3 separate regions of the Homo sapiens genome follow, and all the other regions are linked to region 3. Evidence: fine-mapped expression QTL. A gene starts in region 3. Each other region holds a variant in brackets. All regions are shown on one strand. Distances are from middle to middle.

Evidence for each region. PIP is the estimated chance that this variant, and not a neighbour inherited with it, causes the effect.
Region 1: its variant is fine-mapped to the expression of PELO in whole blood (GTEx, PIP above 0.99).
Region 2: its variant is fine-mapped to the expression of PELO in whole blood (TOPMed, PIP above 0.99). The same link has a PIP of 0.9 or more in unexposed skin.

What each region holds. Positions count from the first base shown.
Region 1 is chr5:52,919,681-52,925,635 of GRCh38, reverse strand. ITGA1 (integrin subunit alpha 1) reads right to left here. Exons shown (of 29, transcript NM_181501.2): 17 at 5,168-5,304; 18 at 2,749-2,859; 19 at 149-358. Among named protein-coding and RNA genes, the nearest start is that of ITGA2, 67 kb to the left of the region's middle. The variant T/C (reference allele first, on the strand shown) is at 3,133.
Region 2 is chr5:52,820,220-52,826,174 of GRCh38, reverse strand. The region is part of intron 1 of ITGA1 (integrin subunit alpha 1); the gene reads right to left. Among named protein-coding and RNA genes, the nearest start is that of PELO-AS1, 22 kb to the right of the region's middle. The variant T/C (reference allele first, on the strand shown) is at 2,566.
Region 3 is chr5:52,785,250-52,791,204 of GRCh38, reverse strand. PELO (pelota mRNA surveillance and ribosome rescue factor) reads right to left here and starts at 3,289. Exons shown (of 3, transcript NM_015946.5): 1 at 2,791-3,289. It overlaps ITGA1 (integrin subunit alpha 1), which reads right to left and starts at 3,289. Exons shown (of 29, transcript NM_181501.2): 1 at 2,791-3,289. The coding sequence starts at 2,851. PELO-AS1 (PELO antisense RNA 1) reads left to right here. Exons shown (of 5, transcript NR_186455.1): 2 at 5,613-5,670. RefSeq lists an enhancer at 3,322-3,601.

The DNA of each region.
Region 1 (5,955 bases), 130 kb before region 3:
ATACTTTCACCATTGGTGAGGACTAATGTAAAAAATTCCTTCTATTCTTTCAAAATCAATCTAATAAAAGCAATTATCTCAGTAGCATGAAAAGTAGGCCAGGTAAATGATGTTAAGAGAACAAATAAATGAAAAACTGGAAGTTTACCTCAATTCCTGAAAAAACTAGATTTGGAGAATAATGCACTATTGTCCTGGTGTTATAGGCACTGTCCTTTGTATTTTTGACTGTGAGGCTAACGTTGAACTTATCATTCTGGGATCGGACAATCAGCAGGTCCTTTTCAGTGGTGGCGACATGCAGGCTGAGGTCTGAGATACATTTTTCCTTATTTCCACAATCTTTGGCAAAGGGAATCTGAAATGATGACAGGAAAGAATTTTTCAAAATTTAGCTACGCATTGTTGAAAATTACCCATCAATTTGTGTAACAAAAATGGCATACAGCCAAAGTAAGTTAAGCAACTCATAAGGAGAATTTCCCTGCAAAAATCTTAAGGGATTTTATATTTATCCCTGTAATTTATAGGGGAGAAGAGTAAACATTTACTTACAAATGTAAATTGTGCTTGTCCTTTTAAGAACGCACAATTTTCATGGGTGCTTTGCACTGGCTTTTGTCTGCCAGGGAAGGACAGTTTTGAAATACAAAGTCAAGTACTGCAAGATCTAAATCTACTCAACTCTAATCATGAGATTTTTCTCTTAAAATTAATCAAATACTTAGGAATATCATAAAGCTCAGTTGAGAGGGTGGAAAACGGTCAAGCCACAAATCTAGGAGTTTTGCTTGATTCTTCTTCATTGACCGCCTCTCCACCACCACCATATGTAACTCACCAAGCCCTGTCCATTCTACTCCTCTTCTAAATATCTCTCCAATCCTTTCTTGCTTCTGCAGTCCCACCACCACCTCACACCCAAGCATTCTCATTTCCTCCCTGAACTAAAGTAATAGCTTCCCACGGGGCTCCCACATCCACCTGTTTCCCTCCAACCACTCTTCACTCTGCTGCATCCTGTCGTGTGGCTGAACCAAATAAAAACCTTCAAAAGCACTGCACTGCTCTTTCAAAAGTTTAGAATTTGTGCAGTGGCACCAAGTCCCGAATGACCCGGCCCCTGCCTTTACCTCCGGCCTCACCTCACGTCACCTCCTTTCTTGCTCTTTAGCGTCAGCCACACTAGCGAATGTCGTTGTTTCCTTCATGCTCAGGACTTTCACACTTAGCATCCCCTCTGCTCCCCAAACTCCCCTAAATAGGGTGGAAATCACCCTATCCTTCAGGGCTCCACTGAAATGGCACAACTTCAGGAGGGCTGTCCTGACTTCTCAGCCTAGGTGGAAGTTCCTAGAGAGCTCTGAAATCCTCCTCCATAGCATATGCTCTAATTACTACTTAATACCTGTTTCCAGTGTTAGACTGTAAGCTCCAATGCCTGGTATGTATAAGACAATCAATATATCTGGTAGGAAGGAAGGGAGAATGGAAGATAGGTGTATGGGGAAAAAGAATTCCCCATCCCTCATATCTCTTCCATTGGAGCCACGCTAGTGACACCCTCCCTCTTCTCTCCCCTCACTCCACTCTCAGGGGTGGCACATGGACTCTAACTTTGGGAACAGGAACTAAGTGAACACAACTCAGTCCCTTTCTCTCATTTCTATTCTCAGAGCAGCTGTACCCACAGGAAGCACACATTTGGCTCTACTCCATTTGACAAGTTTTACAAGGTGGGCTCCATGAAGAAGGACAGAGATGGATCAGCACTGCTGATGACCTAGGTGGTTACTGGTGGTCTAAGTCCATGCTTCAGCGTGAGGACACCCTTTATACCTAAACCATACACTGCAATCCAGTGCTTATTAGAATAATGGGGGAGATTTCTTTCCATTGGTCCTAAATTCAAATGAGGTAAAAATGAGTGTCATTTATTAGTTTTCTTAAACTCCAACAATAGGAAATTAGAAGGATTGGAAAAAGTCTAGAAGAGCCTAATTCTTTTTTAAAACATTTTAAATTGATTTAGGGTTATGTGTGCATGGGTTTCAAGCTTTTTCCTAATGTTACCAGGGCAAACCTGGAGATATGGCTGAGAAAGTTTACTATTTTCTTGAAGAGTAGATAACTGAGAAAGTTCATTATTTTGTTAAACAGTAGATAGCTGAGAAAGTGCATTATTTTTTCTTAAACAGTTTTTTTTTTTCTAGTCTATTTATCTGTAGGTAAGCTTGCTGAAAAACAACTATAGACGGCCTGGGAGCTTCAGGACCCTTTGCCAATTACCAGAGGAAGATAAAGCCATTGAGAAAACGGAGCAAACAAGAACCAGCAACCCCTTGTTACCTTTAGATCATTAACATGTCATTATAATGCTAAAGTCCCTGCCATAGAAGAAAATGGCCACCATTTCTTGAACATATGTTGTATAAGGAAGCATGTTTATGAGCTGTACTTGTACATCTGGAGTTCCTCTCTGGACATGCTTACATATACCTCCCTGCCCCACATCTAACTCCTTAAAATTCCCCAGGTTTTCACAGCTTGAAGAGAAGGTCTTTAGAGCAAGAGCTCCCTCTTTCTCCATTCCTGACCAGGAATAAAATCTGCTTGCCTTTTTTTTCTTTCTTCCAGTTAGTTGTTCGTTCTTTGTGATCAATGCAGAGTAGTGAAAAAACACAGTTTACTAGTGACATTAAAATGTTCACAAGTTGGTATTTTGTATTTTAAAGAAATCTGACTTACATATTCATGTACTGAGTTTGGTAGAGAATCATCAAGAACAGGCCCATTTTCTGGATCGGTAAGATTAAAGTCCAACGTTATTCTCACAGAGTCCTGAAAGTCATGCTTGTCCTAGAGGGTGAAACATAAAATATATCACTGGTATCATATTTACCGGGTGTTCTGATCTTGTTATGTCTCCTTCTTCTGTTCCCAAGGGTCAGGCTTACTGCAGCATTCTTGTGCATCTAATCTGACATATGATCTCATCAGGCTTTTGCTTCCCTGGAGAGGGATTGGCATTCTGACAAGGGGCATAGGGGAATGTGGAGGTTTCAGAGTATGACCTGTTGACTCACTTCCAGTTCCTCAGAGGGCCCTGCTGGAGTGATGGCAACATCACAC[T/C]TGGCTGTGTCAACATAGGAGCTACCTGCATCACAATATAGTTTTTCTTGAGACCTCAAGCCAAAGATCATTATGTAACACTTCCGGGAACATTTCCCAACTTCAGAAGGGCAAACTTTCTATAAAATGAGTTACATTTCATTAATATAATATATACCTACAGCTATAAGTTTTTGTTTGTTTGTTTGTTTGTTTGTTTGTTTGAGACAGAGTCTCTCTCTGTCACCCAGGCTGGAGTACAGCGGCACGATCTCGGCTCACTGCAACCTCCACTTCCCAGGTTCAAGTGATTCTCCTGCCTCAGCCTCCCGACTAGCTGGGATTACAGGCATGTGCCACCACACCCAGCTAATTTTTGTGTTTTTAGTAGAGACGGGGTTTCACCACGTTGGCCAGGCTGGTCTCGAACTCCTGACCTCAGGTGATCCACTCACCTCAGCCTCCCAAAGTGCTGGGATTACAGGCGTGAGCCACCATGCCTGGCCAAGAATTTTATAATGTAAAATTATTTGGAAAGGATGTGAATATGATTAATACTGTTAACATGCCACCAATAACAATAATCATTTATAGTATTCAAAATTATGAGCTTTATATACATTATTGCAAATTATTTCAACAGTCCTCTAAGATGAGTAACTATTATTGTCCTTATTTTACAGATGAAAGATTGACCCTCTAAGAGACCAAACGACGTTGCCAAAGTCTCTCAGAATGTGGAATATTTGGGATACAAATTCTACACTGGCTGACTCCAGAACAAATTTCAAAGTGCTTCTTTCAAAATCCAAAACAATTTTCGAAATTTTGAAAATATTTCAGTCCTTTAAACACCAGTACCTGGACATAACTTAGACACTGAATTTGTGGACAAACATAGACTGAGATGATTTTTAGCAGGTTGGAGACAATGCCATATCTGGTTTCATACCCATTCAAATTTTATCCACATTCTAATTCCTAAGTGTTCAGTTCTGATTAACTAAATAGGAGGGGCAACTCCAGTGTTATTTTACCAAATAATAGATTGATCTTGGTCCTGACAGAATAAGCTTCATGATAAGTATCATGAAGCATATCAACATGAAAATCACTGAGGAAGAACAAATGTGGCACAAAAGGGTGCACATTTTCTGTCACTCCCCTGCCCCTGAACTACAATTTTCAAAATACAGACTATGAATATATCAATAATACAGAAATAAGTCAGAAGTAGGAAAATTGGCCTGGTTCCTTTAAAGCTCCAAGTTTACCGTCAAGTCTCTAAGTCTTAATGTCAGTTACTAAAATCAGTTTCCTCATTACCTTCATGCTGCTTCTTGTTTTTATCACTCTCATGTACATTTTAAGAAAATGTTTAGGAAACTCCTGCCCTCTGTTGGGAACATTCCCCATATACACAGTGTCCCAACAAAATACATTTTAAATGATTCACACTGGCTTACCAGCCATCTCTAAACATTAATAGTTTGATTTCCAAAACTCCCTCATCCACTAAAATTAAAAAAAAAAAAAACTGAAGTAGCACAAAGCCTACAGATGATAGAAAATACCAGATAATTTTCCCCTTCGCTCTAAAATCAAACGGCGAGATATGTAGTTACATGGATCCCAGAAAGCATACAGCCCAGCAGTCTGCCCCCAGAGCAGTTAATCACTTACCAACCACAACTGACAGACAAGGCCCACAGAAATTAAATGTTTTCAAGTTGAAGGAATAAATGAATGAGTGAAAGAAATGAAGACATGAATAAGGTTTCTTGTCAACTAGAACACTGTGTCTTTTCCTGCCGTTCCATAATATATGGATGTCTGATAATGCAGACAGGGAAGACTAGAGATAGTTTTACAAATATTTGGAAATGAGAAAATTAGACCTGCGATTTTATGATAAAAATGAACAAACAAGATTTCCTTTATGACATCATAAGTGCATTTTGAAATAAAACAGTAAGAATTTGATTGACTTGAAATAAGACATCTCTACTGTATTCTTGATTTGGAATAAGGCAGCAACGATATATGATTTACTTGCCAACATGTAGAAGGAGTGCTTAGTGCATTCTGATTTTCGAACTGTGATGTTCCTTTGAACCTTTCTCTCTTGAGTTCCAGAGAAAAAACTTCGTGATATTTGTCTTAGTGAATCTAGGGTGACACGGTACTGCAAATCTACAAAAATTTTAAAAAATAATTGATGGAAATGTTTATTTGAAGTGATTCTCATATTGTACAGATTATTAAATTAGCATTATAGAAAAATCTCTTTGGCAATCAATCAAAAAAGATTCTATTGTTCAGCATATCCACACTGTTATAACAATGATATTAGCAGTCATGAAGATAACCTTGAGGAACTCTATAGAACTGGTCTCTGAGTTCACTGTGCTTTCAGTGTCTAATTACATTTATTGTTTATAATTCTTATACACACATGCACACCTGCCTATCATCTAATTGCCAGGCCACCACTGTATTTATTATATTTTCACTTAAAACATTCTTTTTAAGTTTAGAAATGTTGGAACCCTGCTTAGAATATTGATTATGTTATATTTCAATAGGGACAAAAATATACTTTAGTTATTTATTTACAAATATATACATTTTAATCTATTTATATATAAAATGACATTATCTCAGCTTATGGTCAAACCACTATTAAGGTTCAATAAAATAAGCATACCACAATAAAGAAAATAAATGAAATCTTACACTGTATATGAAGGCTACAATATTCCTTATTTGATCACTTAATTACTTTGCAAAAATTAAATAAGACTGAAATAAAGTTACATATAAAACTCAAAATCATTATTTTAT
Region 2 (5,955 bases), 35 kb before region 3:
CTTATCATTCATGTGTTCACTGGAGTAGCACTTAATTTTCTTCAAGAACTTCTCCTTTACATTCATGACTCAGCTAACTGGACCAAGAGGCCTAGCTTTGGCCTATCTTGGCTTTCAATATGCTTTCCTCACTAAGCGCAGTCATTTCTAGCTTTTCATTTAAAGTGAGAGATGTGTGACTTCCTTTCACTTGAACACTTAGAGGCCACTGTAAGGTTATTTTAGACTAACTTCTTTCCTTTTTTTTTTTTTTTTCTTTGACAGAGTCTCACTCTGTTACCCAGGCTGGAGTGCAGTAGCATGATCTCAGCTGACTGCAACCTCTGACTCCCTGGTTCAAGCGATTCTCCTGCCTCAGCCTCCCAAGTAGCTGGGATTACAGGCAGGCGCCACCACGCCCAGCTAATTTTTGCATTTTCAGTAGAGACGGGGTTTCACCATGTTGACCAGAATGGTCTCGATCTCCTGACCTTGTGATCTGCCTGTGTTGGCCTTCCAAAGTGCTGGGATTACGGGCATGAGCCACTGTGCCCTGCCTATTTTAGACTAATTTCAATACTTTTGTGCCTCAGGCAATAGAGAGGCCCAAGAAAAGGGAGAGAGAGAAGGAAACAGCTGGTCAGTGGAGCTGTCAGAACACACACACTTATCAAAATTTCCATCTTATATAGGCACAGTTCCTGGCACCACTGATCACAAGGCCCCATAACAGATATAATAATAAGGAAAAATTTTGAAATTGCGAGAATTACCAAAATGTGACATAGAGACACAAAATGAGCACTTGCTGTTACTTGTTCAAGTGAAGAGTGGGCCACAAACCTTCAATCTGTGAAAAACGCAGTATCTATGAAGCACAATAAAGTGAAGTGCATTAAAACAAGATGGGCCTATACTGATACATACTATGACATGAATGAATCTTGAAAACATCACACTAAGTGAAAGAAGCCAGACACAAAATACCTTTTTATTGTCTGATTTCATTTATATGAAATATTATTTAAAGCGGCATGTTAATAGGAACAGAAAACAGATCTGTAGTTCCCAGGAGCAGAGGGAAGGGAGGAATAAGAGTAACAGATACAGAATTTCCACTGGATGTAGTAACAAAAGTTCTGAAACAGACAGTGGTTCACAATATTGCACAACCTTGTAAATGTACTTAATGCCACTGAATTACAATTTTAAAGCAGTTAAAATAATACATTTTATTTTATGTATATTTTACTATAATAAAAATAAGAAGCAGCTCAATTATCCACCTTAATCATACAATAATAGGCTTTGTTTAAAAACTAAACTTTTCATTTTGAGGTAATTATAGGTTTACATGCAGTTGTAACAAATAATATATAGAATTCTGAAGTACTATTTATCCAGTTTGCTTTTTAAAGGATCTTCTGTCTTTATTTTTTCTATTTAAATAATGTAATACAAATTTAAAAGTATCTTCTCTTTGGTGGCTAATAGAGGATTGTGTAATTGGGCATTCTGCAGCTTGGGCTTGCTGCCTCTAGCATGGGGTAAAAGTACAATATGTTTTACTTGGTTACTTATCAGCCCATTAAGAGAGAACAATCTGGCCGGGCACAGTGGCTCATGCTTGTAATCCTAGCACTTTGGGAGGCCAAGGCAGGCGGATCACTTTAGGTCAGAAGTTCAAGACCAGCCTGAGCAACATGTGAAACCCCATCTCTACTAAAAATACAAAAATTAGCAGGGCGTGGTGGCACATGCTTTTAATCCTAGCTACTCGGGACCCTGAGGCAGGAGAATCTCTTGAACTCGGGAGGCAGAGGTCACCATAGGCTGGGATCATGCCATTCCGCTCCAGCCTGGGCAACAGAGCAAGATTCCGTCTAAAAAAAAAAAAAAAAAGAAAGAAAAGAGAGAACAATCTTCTCAGCTATTTTATCATTAATGGGAGACAAAAGGAAACAGAAGTAAGGATAGATATTAAAATGTGGATGAATCATGTACATATTCAAATGCATTTTCCATATTTAATTCCTTTGGTAAGTGACTTATAATTATTTGATTTAATGATTACTATATATATATATTAAAGGTCATGAAACAAAGCATAATCAGGGCTGAAGAAAATTAGGTCCCAGATCATTAAGTATGAGAACATAAAACAAATATAGCACTCTTAAAGTAAGGCCCATTTTCTTCAAGCTAGAGCTCTTTAAATATCTGACATACTATCACCAGAATGTGCTAATGATATTCCGTATACTTGTAAAATAAATTGGCAAACGTTGATAATATGTTTAATTTATTTGTAAAGCTACCACAGACATACAAAAGTCAATTCTGTTTTCTAAGCATGTAGAGGAAGTTGAAAAGAAATGCTGAAAGCACTTTCCCCTTCTTTTTTCCTTGTTTTCTCCTAGTTTCCAATTCTTTCTTTTCCTTTGTCTGTATTTTAGCACTCTCTGCACTGCTTTCTCAGTCTCCGTTGGGATATTTAAAAGCCAACCACAGGCTAAACATTGATCAAGTAAATAAACATTTAACTGGTGTGGGTTCTGCCTACAGCAGGATCATGTGACAAGATCT[T/C]AGGAGTTAGAGGACCTCCATTTTCCTAAGGCAGGAAAAGGTTGAGATGCCCAAGAGAATAAGATGGACTTATTGGACATAATCATCACCATTTAAAATGATTTGGATAGGTGCCATGGCTCACACCTGCAATCCCAGCACTTTGGGAGACTGAGGTGGGTGGATCACTTAAGGCCAGGAGTTTGAGACCAGCCTGGTCAACAGAGCAAAACCCCATCTCTACTAAAAAATACAAAAATTAGCTGGGCATGGTGGCGCAAGCCTATAATCCCAGCTACTCGGGAGGCTGAGGCAGGAGAATTGCTTGAACCCGGGAGGCGGAGGTTGCAGTGAGCCAATATCGTACCACTGCACTCCAGCCTGGGCAACAGAGCAAAACTCTGTCTAAAAATTAAAATAAAATAAAATGATTAAATACCTCATACAGATCTGGTGCTACCATTTTGGTCATTCCATGAGTATCTCTCTCCGAGGCTTGTCTAAGATTCAGAAGGATGTCAGGAAAGTCGGGGCACCATTGAGAGAACTCACTCACCTTAAAGCTTGTTAGACCTGGTTCCTTGGAGCCCTCTTTTGACCATGCAATACAAACTCGATGTGTCCTTGAGGAATCTCAGAAGGCTATAGCTGGAAAAGTCCCTATTCGACCATCTAATGAGACAGTGTCCTCAAATGATGAGAACACTGATGCCCAAGCAGTTGAAATATTTTGCCTAATATACTGTGGCTAGTTTAAGTGACCAAACCTAGAGCAGAAAACAATTTTCTTGCTCTGATTCAAGTTCCCAGTCCACTATCTCACACTATGAAGCACATAAAAAGCAGTGATGAACCATCTTCATTATGTGTCCCTGGGGTGTAATTACCGATCATACGAAGCAGAAAGATTAGAAGTAATAGGCCTTCTGCAGCTCTTGCAGCTGTGTTTCCACTGGGTGAGACAGTGTCAAGGGTAGAGGCTACAATACGAACTGGCGAGGGAGGAGAGCCAAGTGACAGACTTCCAGTCAGCAACAGGCTTGGGCCACTTGGCCAGGAGCCACCTAAGTGTCCCATATCCCCTATGCAGAGCAGTCCGGATACTCAGCCTCCAGCTCTTCTAGGAAACTAGCAATGCAGATGCCTCTATGAGTTTGAGATTGTCTAGCTCTGCCCAGTCCAAACGGAAGTGTCCCTGAATCAGTGGGAGGAAGAAGAGAGGCAACTGGTTGGATGAGGACTGAGTTTCATTTTAATTATCTTTGTATCCCCAGTGCCCTAAGTAAAATCGAAGCTCAAATATGTTTATTTGAATAGAGTAACTAATTATAGCCAGAATGTTGTCACCAATCTACTGTAGGCAAAACATTTGTCTCCTCTGAGCCTTGATTTCCAAGTCTATCAAGTAGAAATGTTAATAATGATCCTTGTAGTATTGTTCAAGGATTGACATAAAATTCCACATATGAACACCATTTGGAAACTCTAAAGCACTCTAGCATATAAAGGATAAAAGGTCAGGAAACGGCCTCCACATGGCAAATTCTCAAATAGTCCCATTGCCAATTTTGTTGTTGACATTCTTCCATTCATAAAATATATGCAATTTAAGTTGCAAGAAAACAGATATTTCTATTATAATGTGATATATTCATTCCTAAAAGCAATCTTGTGTTTTCTACAAAATCACACATAAAAATCATACAGCTTATGATAAAAACAGAGTTGGGGCAGTCAACTCAAAGTCCATACACCTTTTTAGCTAAAACATAAAGTCGAAACAACTCAAATAAAAATACTAGCATAATTTTAAAGGCATTTAGATTCCTAATAAATTCTATACTAAATAAATGATTACAGTGGAATGAAGTAAGAAAATGTTAAGGCTGAATAGTTGTGGGGACAAGGGCAAAATGAACTAAGTTTGGGGCCAATTATATAAGCCCTTCCAAGAAATCACACACAGCAAAACTAGGCAAAGAGGAAGAATACAAGGAGAATGGGAATTCCTTACAATACTGTATGAGTATATGCTTACTGTGTCCAACTCTTAGTGTATTTGGCATTCAAGTGGTGGCATTGGTAGTATAAACATTAAGGTGCTAGGGAAAACTGAATTATAGTGACTTATGTATTATAGTGACATCATTTTTCCATTTACCAATTCTGTATGAGCAAATTTCCTTATAGCAACATTCATTGGGAGGGAATATTCTTATTTTTTATGAATATCAGTGGGGCCATCTTCACACGGAATGGGGTGAGGAGAGCTGTCTAAAAACATACTTTTTTGACTGACATAGGTTCCTAGACTTCGGAACAGATTTAACAGTTTAGACCACTGGAGATAACTTTGAGAAACATTGACCCAAATTAAGCAGTCTAAAAATGCAAACTAAAGGCCGTCACAGTCATCCTTAATCTTAATGCTATTGAATGGTATCAAACTTTACTGAATCCAAGTCTTCGTATTTGCTGGTATATATAAACGTGCCTTTATCTATTAATCAACCAACATTTATTAAATAGATAAATCTGTGCTAGCTGTTGTCAGAATACATAATTGTTTCATACAATGACTGTAATGGCAGAAACACATGCACATACACACACACACTTAGAAAGTAGGCTATCAATACTGAAGAGTACATGAAACCTATCCATTTAGTGATAGAGATATTAAGGACTAAATAGATGAGAGTTTCATCTTTCCACTGGGCTAAGGGGTTTTAATCAAAACAGACAACCTTAAATTGGGGAAACTAGCAGAATATAGCAAATATCCTCCCAGCATATGCTCTTGTTAAAGCCAATAAAAAAAAACTGAGATAATACTATAAATTTCTTATTCATGTTTACCTGATTGATTTCTGGTCTCGGGAGAGAACTAAATGCTTCAAAAGTTTTTCTGCGGCAGTTAGGGCTCACCAAATATCACCAAATAATTATGTGCTTGTCTGTATGTCCCAGAGTCCCTAGCAGTAGGTGGAAGCCATGTGGGCTGGTTCTCATCAATGAACAAGGATCAGAACTAACAATGTATTACCTCCACCTCCGGCCAAGGGAGTCAAGAGCAAGTGTGCCATTTTCTTTTTCTTTTTTTTTTTTATTATACTTTAAGTTTTAGGGTACATGTGCACAACGTGCAGGTTTGTTACATATGTATACATGTGCCATGTTGGTGTGCTGCACCCATTAACTCGTCATTTAGCATTAGGTGTATCTCCTAATGCTATCCCTCCCCCCTCCCCCCACCCACAACAGGCCCTGATGTGTGATGTTCCCCTTCCTGTGTCCAAGTGTTCTCATTGTTTAATTCCCACCTATGAGTGAGAACATGTGGTGTTTGGTTTTTTGTCCTTGCGATAGTTTGCTGAGAATGATGGTTTCCAGCTTCATCCATGTCCCTAC
Region 3 (5,955 bases):
TTAAATCCTTTATATGTGACATCAGTTTATGCTGAGACTTTGACATACATAAAATAACAATCCTTTGGACATAAGGACATCTTTTTGATGAATCATTTTAGTAAACGTTGTAAGGAGCTAATATAAGACAGTCTAAATCAAATAGGAAGTTTATTGGGATGCTGGTGGCTTGTTGTTCTGATGTAAACCCAGTTTGGAAGGCTGTAGAGAGTTTATTTAGATGTCAGAGGGTGGTAGGATGGAAAGGTGGAATTCTTTTCTCGATGTATAAAACAAGGTCATATCTTCAGTGGCAAAATGAACATGAGGATTATGGAGAAAGTAAAGAAAAGTGATTGGCTATAATGGACAGTTTATGCTTATGGGTTGTGGTAGGCAGAATAATGGTCTCCCAAAGATATCCATGACCTAATGCCTGGAACCTGTGAATATGTTATCTTAGATGGTAAAAGGGACTTGGAAGATGTAATTAAATTAAAGATCTTGAGATGAGGAGATTATTCTGGTAGGCACATTGTAATTACAAGGATCCTTAGGAAGGTAGTAGGGTCAGAGTCTGAGAAGGAGATGTGATGATAAAGCAGAGTCATGGGGGAAGATCTGAAGATTCTACCCTGCTCGGTTGAAGATGGAGAAAGGGGCCACAGGCCAAGAATGCAGGTGGTGGCCAGAGGCTGGTGAAAACAGGGAAACTGATTTTCCCCTAGAACCTCCAGAAGAAATGCAGCCCTGGTGACATCTTGATTCTAGCCCAGTGATACTTCTGACCTACAGAACTGTACAATAGTAAATTTATGTTGTTTTAAGCTGGTGATCTATGGCAAGTTGTTACAACAGCAATAAGAAACTGACATAGGAGTAGTAGGAGATAGAGAGAGGGTGTTGGATTAGGGCAGTCAGTTGAGAATTTTGGATTTTATCTTAAAGGCAACAAAGAACCACCAAAGATTTTTGACTAAAAACAGATATAGTAAAAATGATGTATTAGGAGGGTAGACTGGAAGTTGGGTTCAAATTGAAGACAGAAAGATAAGCTCTACAGTAGTGTGCATGGATAAGTATGGTGATGAGTCCCCAGGTTACAAACGGACTCTGAATTGATGAGAAGTTTCCAAATCTGAAAGAGATTGCTAAAGAAGAGCCTACAGAATATAATGACTGATGGGAAAGCAGTCCAATTTCAGATCCCTCATGTGTTGCGAAATGGGCATAAATATAGTGCACACAAGGTTTCTAAATATTTTAAGTCTCTTCCTGGATTCACCAATGTATATTTCACCAACATATATATGAAATTGTAACTTGTTAAACTTCTCTGTTACTTCAAGTTTCACTCTTGTCTTTTTAGAGGATACGCAAACCTCATTTCATCATTTCTACTCTAGAGACTGCTTATTTGGTAGAATGAAAAAGTACAACTTGGATAGTAAACTACTGTATTCAGATTTTGCACAAAAACAACAAAATACAATCTAAAAAAATTTGAGTTGGAGAAGAATCATAGGTCAAATATGTGTAAAAAGTAGTGGCAGTAGCTGGTAAGTTAAACCACTCACCGGCTATAATGCTGTTCAGCAGTTACCACTGTTTGGATTATTGGACATTTCCTGAGTAGTGGGAAATGTTTGGATGAAAAGCCAGTAGCTAATTATTAACTCTCTTTACATTACCTCCCTTCTGAAAAAAGCTCTGCTTGCTGATAATCAACTTCTAAATCATCTTCATAAAACTTAACAATGCTTGGCCATCTAAGGCAGGTCTAAACTAGCTGGCTCTACCCTGTTTTTAGTGGTAAAAATGCTAAATTAACTAGTACTAATAACCATGCCAGCAGTAAAAACACTGAACAATTGAATATCAATGATATGTTAAAGCCAGCTGTTAATTAACCCATTAATAAGGTGATTTTCTTTCACACAGAGATTCTATCGATACACTTTCCCCCCACCTTCTTCCATTTTTCACCATTTCAACTTTCCCCCACCCCAATCAGTAACTGGTAAAAAAGATCTGACCATGAGTTCATTATTGGGAAAATCTTACAAAATGCTATATTTCAAGCTTTTTCTAAATTGGATACAACTTTGCATTTCCACTATGTTTTTAAGTCCCCTCCTTAAAAATACACATTTATGTACAAATAACAATACTATATTTTGCATCTTAAAAGTAGACTGCCCTGTGATATTTACAGAGAAAATGTTCACCATTCCTTTCTACGTTTCAAAATATCCCTCCTCTTGGGTGCTGACATAGAAACATCATTTTGGAACAAGTGGCAGTTTCGTCTTGCATCCCTGCCTTTTCTTGTTCTGCATGGGAAAAAAGCCTAAATAGTAGACAGCAAGAAAATTCAATAATGTCCACTCTGGAACAACCCGAGGGTAGGAATTTTGCATATGTATCAGGCGCCCTATAAGCATCACCCTCCCATCCCATGCCATAAAAAAGGGTGGAGGGGAGGAAATATTCAGCAAAGTCCTAATATACAATGTGTATTGTAAAAACAACTTTAATTTTAAAAGTGAATTCTACCTTCTAAGGTTTTCAGTGCTGCCTCACTCCTACTCCTAGGGTGAAGGACTTTGGAGAGACACGAAAACTAATTCATATCAAAACCAGAACGCGAAACTCCTGCCTGCCCCGTAGCCTGGCCTGAGTACCTGGAATGCCCGAAAGTGGATGGGCGCTCTCTCTTCCTATCTGGCCCATGGCTCTGAGGACCTCCCTCCCCGCTCCAAGCCCCAAGCCCGCGAGCAGGAGATGCTCAGAGAAAAGCGAGTCGCTCACCAGTGAGGAGCCAGCAGCAGGCGACAGCGACCCCTGGGCGGGCGCGGGGCCGAGGGGCCATGGCCGGAGCAGCCTCAGCGCCAGGGGGCCGCGCTGGTTCGCAGGGCAGGACCGGGCGCGGGAGCTGCGCTCTCTGGCTGGGCCACTTATCCCGCTGCCGCGGTTCCCAGTCCTCTGCCCCAGTGGCAGCGGCGCCCAGGAGCGGGAGAGGAGTGATTTCCTGTGTTTTCGTCGAATTCCTCTAAATGCGCTCCACGCTTTTCACATCCCAGACGGATTGCCACATCGCCCGCCCCTTCGCGCTCTTGGTCTCTGAAATCTCACTGGCAGCTTCCCAGGCTCTGTCCGAGACATGGACAAATAAAGCCAGCTTCGCGGGTCCGTGTTTAGGCTAAAGTCCACGGGCTGTAGAAGCAAACCTTAAAGGGACATCTGCCTTTCATTGAGAGGGTGATCTCGTTCTCCGGGCCAAATCCCCTAAGGTGGTAGGAAGGCGGGTAAGGGCTGGACCTTCGGGAGGGTGTTGCCAGCCCAGTGGCTCCGCCTTCACACCCCTTACTTCTCCCGGCCCGGGCAGGGAGGGCGCTTTGACAGTGCCTGGGCGCCCTTAACGGGAGGCAGCTTTCCCGGGTCCATTGCGCAGAGGGATTAGGCCGTCTGTGAAAATGCGAGGATCTGGAATCCCCCCTTCCATCCCCTGCGGACACTTGAAATTCACCGTGAAGTCGTTTTGCACGAAAGGGGGCGTCCCCACCACCCCGACAGGCTCCACTGAGGGCTTTGCTTTCGCTTATGGGGGGGTGGGGGGGTTGCTTCGTTTATGGTAATTCGTGGTTAAAGGGTGGTTGCAGATAAGCTTTTCTTTGAGATAACTAGGATAAGGGGAGAAAAGGAGAAGCAAGACGGAGGAAAAACAGTAAGAGGGAGAGCGAGAAGGGAAGAGAGGAAGAAAAGCAGCCTCCTTGGAAATGGAATGTGTGTGGGCTATTTTGTTTAAGTGAATTAGGATGTTTGTACGCTGGTAATTGAATCTAATAAAGAACTCGGGGCACTACTTTATTTTTTTCTTGCTTGAAACTTTCACGAGTGAAAATGCATTAAGAGTCCAGAAGTGCTTAGGAACTTGCAATGCTTCCCTTTCCTGGTGAGTTGAACAACCTCTCTGAGTCAAAAGCCATATTCACCCTAGCTTCAACCAATGCTGGCTATTTTCAAAATAGCTGTGTCTTAGCGGTTTTGAGAATTTCAAAGACAGAAAGAATAAGTGGATTTGTGTTTAGAGGAATCTGAGGGAAACAGTTCAATTCAATTCTTCAACTCAACAACTAATTGAGCATCTCTAGCAGAACTAGGGCTAGGCAGGACAAGAGTGCCACCCAAAGGAGGGTTCGTTGAGCAGAACGCAACACAGGTAGCACAGAACAGGTAACACGAGGGACAGGAAGGAAGAAGCCCACAGGGTTCACTGGATACATTGCCAGATAGAGGATCACAGCAACTAAAAGCTGGAGAAGACAAAAGTTGAAGAAGTTTAAGGAGCGTCAAAAATGGGGTGGGCAGACCCAAGGAGGTTGAAGGCCATCAGATCTCAGTATGTTGACCCATTAATCAAGAAATTCCTTTTCTATTATGTATCTGAACTGATTCACTATTTAGTAAATACATTAAAAATCTCGTTCTCCCGTTTTTAGTTTTTATAATGTCATTTCTCAGTTCTGTCTTCAAATTTACACAAATGAGTCTCTAGAAAAATTGTATTATGTTGGGTCACAGTTCAATCCCATTGGACTTTACTTAAGTTCCTTTGTTTGTGTTCAATGCTCTCATACCCTGCCAAGGAATTCATTTCCTGTGTATATCTCGTTTCCCTGTTGGTAGTATCAGTTATGTCTTATGCCTCTCAGTATGACTCTCTGTGCTTTGAACAGTAACCAATAGATATTGATTAATTCGTAGACATTTAAAAATCATAGTAAGTACTTTCCCAATGATATTTCTCCAAATTGCTTAGTTTTCAAAAACATATAATAGTGTGTCTATATATACACAATCATGTGTATGTATGTATGTGTACATATATATGTACAGCATATACATACATATGCAAATACATATATGGCATTTTAGCAAATTGCAATATATTTCATTAGAAAAAACAAAAAGAAATTGTAAAATATTGAAATAAAGTAGGGTTAACATATAATATGTTCAAGTTTACAATTACTGGGAAATTTACCTTTCTTCTGGGGGCTAATATATAATTTCAATTTTAATATTTTTATTTCCTCTAGGACTTACAAATTATTGGTGATAACCATCACTAACAGTGATATTGTTACAATTAATTTTCACAAGTTACAAATTTTATGTTTACATGTTTACATATTTATGAATCTTTTATATGTCTAGTCAATACAAATGTAGAGACTGAGAGATAACTATGGTTAGAGAATTAATTTTAGAATCAGTGCTTATTTTCTGAACTTCAATAAACCCAAATACAAATAAATGTCAAGCCGGTTATTTTCTTAACCAATTTTATTCTGACTGACAGAAAGACATGTCATTGAGTAAAGATTTAGAGAAGACAGAAACTTGCCCAGAGTCACAAACTAGTTATTGATATGAGACACTTGATGACAAATGTTTCAGCTCTAGACTTTATACTACATACTTTTCTATTTTAAATGAGACTTGATTTGATCAGATCTCTTTAAGGGTTTGGAAGCATGAGTAGGAGCATGAACCTTATTGTGAACTGCACACGCTTCTTATGAGAATCTAATGCCTGATGATCTGTCACTGTCTCCCATCATCCCCAGATGAAAACGTCTAGTTGCAGGAAAACAGGCTGAGGGCTCCCACTGATTCTACATTATGGTGAGTTTTATAATTACTTCATTATATATTATAACATAATTATAATGGGAATAAAGTGCACAATGAATGTAATGTGTTTGAATCATCTTGAAACCGTTTCCCCTACCCCTGGTCTGTGGAAAAAATGCCTTCTATGAAACCGGTCTCTCTGCCAAAACGGTTGGGGATGGCTGCACTGAAAGATTAGAGACTGAACTGATTAAGAATTTGGAAAGTGGATGTCTATGAAATGAGGCAAGAGTAATTGAGATTATTAACCAATAATCTCAAAAAGAAAAACATATA